Regions from separate parts of the Homo sapiens genome. Here all the other regions are linked to region 1. The links come from fine-mapping of genetic effects on gene expression. A gene starts in region 1. Each other region holds a variant in brackets. All regions are shown on one strand. Distances are from middle to middle.

Evidence for each region. PIP is the estimated chance that this variant, and not a neighbour inherited with it, causes the effect. A credible set is the group of variants that fine-mapping cannot tell apart.
Region 2: its variant is the best candidate, but not a certain one, in a credible set for the expression of EYA3 in gastroesophageal junction (GTEx, PIP 0.59).
Region 3: its variant is the best candidate, but not a certain one, in a credible set for the expression of EYA3 in whole blood (TOPMed, PIP 0.60).
Region 4: its variant is the best candidate, but not a certain one, in a credible set for the expression of EYA3 in whole blood (INTERVAL, PIP 0.70).

What each region holds. Positions count from the first base shown.
Region 1 is chr1:28,087,287-28,089,973 of GRCh38, forward strand. It overlaps EYA3 (EYA transcriptional coactivator and phosphatase 3), which reads right to left and starts at 1,324. Exons shown (of 18, transcript NM_001990.4): 1 at 1,238-1,324. RefSeq lists enhancers at 924-983, 1,194-1,263.
Region 2 is chr1:28,021,112-28,023,798 of GRCh38, forward strand. The region is part of intron 7 of EYA3 (EYA transcriptional coactivator and phosphatase 3); the gene reads right to left. Among named protein-coding and RNA genes, the nearest start is that of XKR8, 62 kb to the left of the region's middle. The variant G/A (reference allele first, on the strand shown) is at 1,101.
Region 3 is chr1:28,016,263-28,018,949 of GRCh38, forward strand. EYA3 (EYA transcriptional coactivator and phosphatase 3) reads right to left here. Exons shown (of 18, transcript NM_001990.4): 8 at 892-977. Among named protein-coding and RNA genes, the nearest start is that of XKR8, 58 kb to the left of the region's middle. The variant G/A (reference allele first, on the strand shown) is at 1,124.
Region 4 is chr1:28,061,631-28,064,317 of GRCh38, forward strand. The region is part of intron 1 of EYA3 (EYA transcriptional coactivator and phosphatase 3); the gene reads right to left. Among named protein-coding and RNA genes, the nearest start is that of EYA3, 26 kb to the right of the region's middle. The variant AACTG/A (reference allele first, on the strand shown) is at 1,358.

The DNA of each region.
Region 1 (2,687 bases):
GTGCCCTAAATCTCAAAATGAGAAAATGATAGTTTTACTACAAAGGTGGAAATGGTAAGGAAAAAAAAATACAAAAGTTAGAAGAATATTCTAAGTAATGTACTTCTAAGTAATGTAATTCTAAGTAAAGTCTGGCTAATGAAGGAAGAGGAAGACAAATAGAAAACTTAATACAGTAAAAATGAAAAAATGCATATGTGCATACTAAGTTTAAAGATTACTTTGAAATTACTATAGTGAACTCTTCAGCAGACCACTTTTCGGAAACAACACAATAAATTCATAAATCTGGGGCTAATGATCTCTCCACAAATTCTGTCCTCTATCATCACAAGTGTCCTGTAAGAAGCGTCCATGCCGAAAACAGAGCTGAACGTCCCAAAATATTGGCGTTTTTGCCTCAGCTGTGCACATCCATTCTCATGGGAACACAAAACTGACAGAACTTCTTCATGACTTGTCAATTAACAAGATCGCGCCAGCCCAACTGCTAGCAGTACCGTGTGCCTGCCACCTGTTAGCTGCTCTTGAGAGAGCCCCAAAACTGAGGTAAAGCGAAGAACTAGGAACGCCTTTGTTGTACCCTAACTATGGAAGCTACCAGAGTTCAGTCTAACCCGGCGCCTTAAGGCAAAACTTCCCCCAGGCTGGGGAAGTCTTCCCATTTCGGGGCTTTGGCAAAGCTCTCCTCTAGCTAAGGACAGGCAGAAGAACCCCAGGAGAAGCACTGTCACCTACTGGTCCCAGGAGGAAGGATCAAAGCTGAAGAAAGTTGGGGGACAAGGAACTAGGACCCTAGGGAGAGGCTCAGTTTCTCGTGGTGAAGAGTGAGCACAATGAGAAGCTGGGCCGTCTCGCTAGGTGAAAGAACGCTGAGATCCCAGATCAGGGGTAGGGGAAAAGAGGTTCTAAAAGAAGGGAGGAGGAGAAAAAAGGAGAGGCAGTGGCTGAGAGAAGCGCTGAGGCGTAAGGCAAGAAACCGAGGTTGGAAAAGGACTGATGAGGCTGAGGAAAAACAGCGAGGCGACAGAGGCACGGAAGCGCGAGAAGGCTAAGCTGAGGTGAATAAGGCGAGGCCAGCGTGAAGGAAAGGGCTGAGGTGAGTGAAGCACTGCAGTGACAAGGGACAGGCGAAGAGACTCCCACCCACAAGGACCGAGGCAGAACTCTAGACCCATCCCCCTTCACGCTGTGCTCGCCCGGCTGCGCTCAGACCCTGTTGGCAGCTGAGACTCACCCAAAGGCTGTAAAAGCCCCACAACAGGACATGGAGATCAGTCCAGACCCACAGTAGAACCAATCGAGCGGAGGAAACCGCGGCGTTAGCGTGACCCGGATGCGCATCGCTAGGAACCGGAAGTAAGCGGCCAGAGTCACCTCACAATCCACACCTCGTTCCACTAGAAACCTCTGGGCGCATGTGTTGAGTCTGACCGGGCGGGGAAGCTTTTAGGCTCCGCCCACTCCGCCGGCCCGGCGAGCCACGCCCATGGCCACGCCCCTCTTAGTGCCTCGGAGACAAGCAGCTTCTGGGTGAGCGCTAGGCAGTCCTGACGGTACTACAGCCTTCACTTTTAAGGAGGTCTTTAAAAATGCGCGTAATCCCTACCTGGCTAAAAGGAACGTAAGAAGTGTTGGGTGCATTTGGTAGATTTAGAAAAACTGGGAAGGAGAATGAGTGGGAAGTTTTGGAAGACATTTGGGAGGCTAGCCCAAGGTGATCTTTTTTTTTTTTTTTTTTTGAGACGGAGTTTCGCTCTTGTTGCCCAGGCTGGAGTGCAATGGCGCGATCTCGGCTCACTGCAACCTCCGCCTCCCGGGTTCAAGCGATCCTCCTGCCTCAGCCTTTCGAGTAGCTGGGATTACAGGCATGTGCCACCACGCCCGGCTAATTTTGTAGTTTTAGTAGAGACGGGGTTTCTCCATGTTGGTCAGGCTGGTCTTGAACTCCCGACCTCAGGTGATCCGCCCGCCTGGGCCTCCCAAAGTGCTGAGATTACAGGCGTGAGCCACCGCGCCCATCCCTTTTTTTTTTTCTTTTTTTGAGACAGAGTCTTGCTCTGTCGCCCAGGCTGGAGTGCAGTGGCGCGATCTCGGCTCACTGCAACCCCCGCCTCCTGGGTTCAAGTGATCCTCCCACCTCAGCCTCCCGAGTAGCTAAGACTACCGGCGCGCACCACCACGCCCGGCTAATTTTTGTATTTTTCGGTAGAGACGGGGTTTCGCCATGTTGCCCAGGCTGGTCTCCAACTCTGGAGCTCGGTTGATCCCTTGGCCTCCCAAAGTGCTGGGATTACAGGCGTGAGCCCCAAGGTGATCTTTTTATCCCCAAATTTAGTTTATTCTTAATATTATATTAGGCTTACAATTCACTTCGTGCACACTGTTTTCGGAAGCAAAATTCTTAAATGTTTCGTTAATTTTAAATTACAACCCAAGTATGGGCTAGAAGCAAGGTTGAATTCAGGCTTTGTGGAGACTTGACGTTTATTCAATTTGGGGGCCCTCTTTAAAATAATCAAGGCCAGGCACAGTGGCTCATGCCTGAAATCCTAGCACTTTGGGACGCCGAGGTCGACCGGTTGCTTGAGCCCCGGAGTTGGAGATCACCTGGGCAACAAAATTAGACCCTGTCTCTACAAAACAAACAAAGCAAAACAACAACAAAAAAAACCCAGAAAAATTAG
Region 2 (2,687 bases), 66 kb before region 1:
CAAGATTTAGTTTTTACCCACCTCTCTAATTTTAGATCATGTCACTTCACCTCCTTTGCTCACACTGTCTTTCTTTAAGTTACTCAAAACCGGACAAGCTCTTTATCATTTGAGGACTTTTGCAATATTGTTCTCTCTGCCTAGACTGTTCTCTCCAACCCCCTTGCCTTCCCAGCATGATGGCTCCTCAGCATGACTCACTTCCTCAAAGAGGGTCTTTTTGACCTATTAAAACCAAGACCTTTTCTGTTTTCTTAATCACAGTGATCAATTTTTTTTTCAGAGCACTGTTCAAAATCTGTTATGTATTTACTCACTTGTTTTCTCCCCCGCACCCCACTAGTCTGTAAGCTCCAAAAAGGCAGAATCCTGCTGTCTTATAATCTCCAGCATCTAGCAAAGCACCTGACATACAGCAGGTGATGGTCAATAAATATTTGTGGGATTCATATACATCTATCTTGTGTGCACTAAGTGTGAAGGGCAAAATCATTCTTCTTTTTTTTTTTTTAGATGCACTCTCACTCTGTCACCCCGGCTGGAGTGCAGTGGTATGATCTTGGCTCACTGCAACCTCTGCCTCCCTGGTTCAGGCGATTCTCGTGCCTCAGCCTCCCCGAGTAGCTGGGATTACAGGTGCCTGACACTACTCCCAACTAATTTTTGTATTTTTAGTAGAAACGGGGTTTCACCATGTTGGTCAGGCTGGTCTCAAACTCCTGACCTCAAGTGATCTGCCCACCTCAGCCTCTCAAAGTGCTGGGATTACAGGCATGAGCCACCGCGCCCAGCCTAAAATCATTATTTTCTGCTAAAGGCTGACAGGTGGGTTCCTAAAACTTACTCTCATTATGTGACTAATATAACTGACAATTCCTGATCCAGTAGAAGCTGTACATATTTTGGTTAAAACTGATTGCCTAAGTGGGTCATTCGTTCACTTAATCCTTTATCAAATATTTATTGAGTGCCTACTATGTGCAAGCACTGCTCCACACAAGGAGCTTAGTAAATCAAAATAATAAAAATCTCCTAATAAAAGATTATTATTTTTTGAGACAGAGTCTCGCTCTGTCGCCCAGGCTGGAGTGCAGTGGCGC[G/A]ATCTCGACTCACTGCAAGCTCCGCCTCCTGGGTTCACACCATTCTCCTGCCTCAGCCTCCCAAGTAGCTGGGACTACAAGCACCCACCACCACACCCAGATAATTTTTTGTATTTTTAGTAGAGACAGGATTTCACCATGTTAGCCAGGATGGTCTCGATCTCCTGACCTCGTGATCTGCCTGCATCCACCTCCCAAAGTGCTGGGATTACAGGTATGAGCCACCGCGCCCGGCCTAAAAGATTCTCATTGCTGGAGTGGAGATTTTCAGATCAATAAGGGACAGGGTTTAGAATGATCTATGTAATAATGGATCAGAGCTCAAGAAATCAGTAAGAATTCATGTTTAACTCAACACAGATACAGATTACGACATACAGAAATATTTATAGATATGTGTATTTACATAGGTTAGTATACCTACATATATTTGTTTGCTCTGTCAGCTGAGAAAGCCTAAAATAAATGTCACCTGACACCTCAGTAGCAATTAGCACCCCTCAAGCTCAGATCTTTTTTTTGAGACAGGGTCTCACTCTGTTACCCAGGCTGGAGTTCAGTGGTGCGATCACAGCTCACTGAGGCCTCGACCTCCTAAGGCTCAGGCGATCCTCCCACCTCAGCCTCCCCAAGTAGCTGGGACTACAGGCACGCACCACTGCACTTGGCTAATTTTTATATTTTTTGTAGAGATGGGGTTTTGCCTTGTTGCCCAGGCTGGAAGCCCAAATCTTGGTTTTGAATACCATTTTTTCCAATAAAAGGAACCAGGATTCCTTAAAAAAAATGGTTGATAATAGGACTTGAATAAGTAATATACAAGATGAGCCTGGAGCATCTTGTAGTGCCAGGAAGTAAGAAAGTGCTGGGTGGGGGGGGGGGGGAAAACCAAAAACTAAAAAAATGGGAGTATGTCAAAAGGCATAGGAGCCAACTGAAAGAGCTCCCAGTGGCCAAACTGGAACAAAATAAATAAAGTAGTATTGGATTATAACCCAAAGTATAAATTAAATATCTAGGAGTCCACAAAAAAATGACTGAATAAATCAACAAACTGGGGAGAAGAGACAAATCTGGGCAGAAGAATTCCAAATACATTATGTAGATATTCTACCCTAAAGAAGGGGCAGCATGATTCCTTAACTGTGGGCTGTACATAGTGAATTCTATCTAAAGAATACAGTACAGAAAGGGAGGAAAGAGTAACTTTATGGAGAAAACTGACAAACACTACTTCAATTAGGTAATCAAGGTCAACATCAACAGTCATAAATAATGATGATAGTATGGCACCTTGCCTTTGTGACCTTCCTCCTTAAAATCCATAACCCCAGCGTAATAATGAGAAAAACATCAGATAAATTCTCTAAGAGTGGGGCATCTTAAAATATACCTGGACCAGTACTCCTCAAAACTGTCAAGGTCATTAAAAGCAAGGAAAAGCCTGAGAAACTACAAAGTCTAGAAGAGCCTAAGGAGACATAACTAAATGTAATTTGGTATCCTGGATGGAATCCCGGAACAGAACAAGGACATCATATAAAAACACAGGAAATCTGAATAAACAACGGACTTAGTTAATAATAA
Region 3 (2,687 bases), 71 kb before region 1:
CACACCTGTAATCCCAGCACTTTGGGAGGCCAAGGCGGGTGCGGTTCACTCTAAGTCAGGAGTTTGAGACCAGCCTGGCCAACATGTGAAACCTCATCTCTACTAAAAACACAAAAATTAGCTGGGCATGGTGGCACATGACTATAGTTCCAGCTACTCAGGAGGCTGAGGCAGGATAATCACTTGAACCTGAGAGGCAGAGGTTGCAGTGAGCCAAGATCGCACCACTGTACTCCAGCCTGGGCGACAGAGTGAGTGAGACTCCATCTTAAAAAAAAAAAAAAAAAAAGCAAAACCAGTATAATAACCAGAATAGTAATGTTAACTGTAGCCAGGAAAAGATCCAAGGAGACAGTGGTGATGATAATTGCTGTAGAGAAAACAAATCAAAACAAAAATAAAAAACTCTAGAACACTGAAGGTGTTACCAGTGATCTCCTAAGCATAGTTAACATAACAGTGATCAAGAATAGACCACAAAAAATTCATAAAGAATGAGTTGTTCATTCCATAAATATTTATCAAGTGCCTTTGATGTAAGTGGCAGGCATTTTTCTATACTCTGGGAATATGTAAATGAACAAAACAGAAAAATAAATCCCTACCTTCATGCAGCTTACATTCTAGTAGGGGCAGAGTAGGAAGTGAAGACAAATACAGTAAAGAAACAGACATAACCATATTCTAGAGAGACCCAGCAGAGGAACAACAAAAACTAGACAGTAACCTAAGATGCCATCCAGGGTCCGAGTTCTGAAGGTATCCAGAAAAAAGTCTCCACAGCCCATACTATTCCTGGTTGTTTCTTAGATAGGCAAATTGACCATGGAAAGAAGAAAGAGCAAGCTGGATGAACTCTATCAAACAGGATGAACAAAGGTAGCATCATACCTGGTTTGAGATGCTGGCTACTGCTGCTGCTGGAATATTGGCAATTGTAGAAGAAGTAGATATCAGGCTGGCATTTGTGCTTGAAGCTAGAGGATTGATGGGGTTAAAAGATATTAAAGATATTATGTAAAAGGTTAGAAGAAACTGAAAATAGATGTGTTTTAAGTGAACAGATTTATAAGGAGATAAACAACATTGGCAAAGGAAACAAACACTCGTTTTGCTTTTTTGT[G/A]TGGGATAGCTACATTTACACTTGGTTAAAAACAAAACATTTGAAACATCTTTCTGTTTCAACTTGAGTCTTCAATTCTTCTTATTAAAGGCCTAAAAGGATATATATTCAATTCACAGCTCATACTAATAATATCAATGAAATCACAGCTAAATCCAATTCCTCCAGCCCATCTTCTCCAGAGGCTGAAAAATGACTCACCTGCAATGTGACCTACTGTAAAGCAGTAGAACTCTGGTAAATCTTACACTGTGATATTGTTTGCTGTCACTTGCCCCAAGTTACGCCTTTCCTAATACAACATAATTACATGAGAAATAGAGCTGGTCCTCCAAATTCCAAAGCATTTAGAATTGCTTCTTGAGTTCTACTCAAATAATAGATTACTAATGTGGATCAATAAACACAATGACATAGCATTTAGAGACTTTAACAATGAGCCTGGAAAAACTCAGAAAATATTAAATATTACTCTGGTCAGATAAAAATGTACCTTATATGATACTTGGGCTGTCTTAAGTAATTTGAGGCCAGGTGTGGTGGCTCATGCCTGTATCCCAGCACTTTCGGAGGCCGAGGCAGGCAGATCATTTGAGGCCAGGAGTTTGAGACCAGCCTTGCCAACGTGGTGAAACCCCATCTCTACTAAAAATATAAAAATGAACTGGGTATGGTGGGCACGGGCCTGTAATCCCAGTTACTCAGGAGGCTGAGACATGAGAATCGCTTGAACTCAGGAAGTGGAGGTTGCAATGAGCCAAAATCGCATGACTGCACTACAGCCTGGGTGACAGAGCAAGACTCTGTCTCAAAAAAAAAGAAAAGAAAAAAGAAAAAAAAGAAAGAAAATGCTGATTTCCATTCACATAAAACAATAAAAATAAAGACAAGTAATTTGGGTTAAGTTTTATACTTCTTCTGTCATAGGTTCATTCTACTAGGGTTTTAATCAAAATCTCAATGACTAGCACTAACCAGTGACTTTTCTCAGGTGAACAATGTAACTGATATTATCAGTACTGTTCTCAAACTCCTTGTCCTCATTTATCATAAACACACTTAGACATGGTTCCTACTGCAGGTACACACACCATATGGGTTCACCATCAGGTAGACCTGACTAACTGACTACCTGCCCCATTAACAAAGTCCCCCAGAGAGAAAATTAGTAAGAAAACTTCCATTGAGAACAGGGCAGGAGAACAAATGCAATAGAAACTTAAGTGCTCTGGTCAAAATTAGATAATTTTCATCCCTTTCCCTAAGGGTACTCGGCTTAGAAGACAATCCAGAAGACAGTAAGTTCAGTTACAGCTATTGCTGCAACCCCAGCTTTAAGATGAAGAACCTAGGACAAAGAAGAATTAAAGTAACTTGTCCACAGCAGCAAAAATAATGGAAGATAACCAAAATGACAACTTGGATCTCCCAATTCTTCATCCAGTGCTTCTTCCTCAGGGTCAGCAGCTAAGCTAGGGTTCAAATTCCCTAACTATGGCCAGGTGCGTGGTGGCTCACGCCTGTAACCCCAGCACTTTGGGAGCCTGAAGTGGGTGGATCACCT
Region 4 (2,687 bases), 26 kb before region 1:
GCTCTGTCGCCCAGGCTGGAGTGCAGTGGCGCGATCTCAGCTCACTGCAAGCTCCGCCTCCCAGGTTCACGCCATTCTCCTGCCTCAGCCTCCTGAATAGTTGGGACTACAGGCGCCCGCCACCACGCCCGGCTAATTTTTTGTATTTTTAGTAGAGACGCGGTTTCACCGTGTTAGCCAGGATGATCTCGATCTCCTGACCTCGTGATCCGCCCACCTCAGCCTCCCAAAGTGCTGGCATTACAGGTGTGAGCCACCGCGCCCGGTCAACGGTTTTTTTTTGTTTGTTTGTTTGTTTTTACCATTAATGTAACCTGACATTATTTTACATTCAGTGAGATTCATCTTTTAAAATATCAAGTAATACAACAGTTGTAACACAGAAGTGAAAAGTGGATTTTTAATGTAATTAAAATAAATTAAAACTTAGTCAAACAGCTGATGAAATTACAAGACATGCCCCGAGTTAATCTTTTAAGTACCTTTAGAACATTTGGAAAGTAATGTCTTTTCACAATTTTCTAATTTCAATTCTTACTACTGGTTTCTAAATACACTTGTTTTATCACCTTTTTTGGAAATAGAGCTTGTCAGTATTCATTTGCCTTCATGGACAGAATTCTGAGAAAATTTTAAATTGAGAATAGAAATAGTATTTCCTAAGACTTTACACTTCTCTACCTGTGAATGCTGACAGTGAAAAAATAGAAACTTTGGTTTGATTCAAGAGCCACACAATTTTGAATACTATTGAGATTTTGCATGCTTAAAAATAAAAGCAGGATCTTTCTGTAATATGGCAGCCATAAATTTTATTTTTACTCTTTAGAAGTTAGAAGGGAAATAATTAGTAACAAATATTTTATTTCAAAATTCAAATTAGATTCCTACCTCATAGTTTCTGTTTTGTCCCAAGTTCAACATACTATGTACCCTGTAAATGTAAATGGCCATAAGCAAGAAATTAGGTTGCTTCAATGTGTTATTAAAGCTCTTAGGCTTAGGAAGAGAAATTAAATATATGTAGGTGTGTGTGTGTGTGTGTGTGTGTGTGTGTGTGTGTTCTGTTTGTTTAAAAGCACAGAATAGGCTGGGTGCAGTGGCTCACACCTGTAATCCCAGCACTTTAGAAGGCCAAAGCAGGCGGATCACTTGAGGTCAGGAGTTTCAAACTAGCCTGGCCAACATGGTCAAACTCTGTCTCTCTTAAAAATACAAAAAATTAATCTGGCGTGGTGGCACGCGCCTGTAATTCCTGCTACTCAGGAGGCTGAGGGAGGAAAACTGCTTAAACTCAGAAGGCGGAGGTTGCAGTGAGCCGAGATTGCACCACTGCACTCCAGGCTGGGCGACAGGA[AACTG/A]ACTAACGCTCCATCTCAAAAAAAAAAAAAAAAAGCACAGAATAAAGGTCAAATTGTTTTCCATGAAAACAAGGCATATATCACTCTTAATTACAACTTCAAAAGAAGTGTCTAAGTAAGGCAAAGTCTGATTTATAGGTCCTAGAAAGAGAATTTGCATGCAGCTAAGTATGTACAGAGATATTCAGGAGTTAACTGGATATCTATGACACAGTCCCACATAGAAAAAAGGTAGTCCATAGATTTGCTCACTGACTACATTGTATTTTAAGTTTATTTACTACACTTTCCAAAGTGCCTTATATATATATATATTTTTTTTTATTTTTAATTTTTTTTGGGGGGGGAAATAACTAAAACCTTTTTTTTTTTTTTTTTTTTTGGAGACAGCATCTTGCTCTGTCACCCAGGCTGGAGCACAGCGGCGTAATCTCGGCTCACCGCAACTTCCACCTCCCCAGTTTAAGCAATTCTCATGCCTCAGCCTCCCAGGTAGCTGGGATTACAGGTGTGCGCCACCACACCTGGTTAATTTTTGTAGCGATGGGGTTTTGCCATGTTGGCCAGGATGGTCCCAGACTCCTGGCCTCAAGTGATCCACCAGCCTCGGCCTCTCAAAGTGCTGGGATTACAGGTGTGAGCCACCACATCCGGCCTAAAACCTTTATTAGATATGATTTTCCAATAATAATAATGTGCAAATTTGAATTATGAATTCAAAGAGCAGTGAAGTCTGAAATTTTAAAAGGTAGAATAGGTATTAGGGAACAAAAGGTAAAGGAAGATGAGAACGTTTAATACTATTCATTATCTCCTCTGTACACAATGTTGCATATACACAACTATTTCATTTTTATCTTATTGATTTAACAATAGTGAAATCACCTTAAGCAACCTACGGTATATAGTTGGTGTCCAACTTTGGGGGGGAAGGTAGAAACATACATGATTAACATTTTTCACCCACACATTTTAGACAATTTTTTTTTTTTGGCCAAGATTTTAGCAGCAAATTCATAAATATAAGAAGTACTTTCACTCATTCAATGTTAAAACAGAAAGCCAAATAGTGTCAACAGTAGTGGCTTAATTATTGGTATACAAGAAAAACAAAACACCAATAGGTTTTCTTAATTATGCACTTTAAATATTAATATGTGCATTTATTTTTAGTTATACATTTTTCACGTTTTAGACAATAGCCTTTAATAGTTTCAAATCCATTGAGACGTTGCTTTCAATTTCAAATAATGTGTGCATACACGTATATAAAAAACAACCCAGTGTATGACTCATGTGACAGATGTTTAAGATTAACAAATGCTT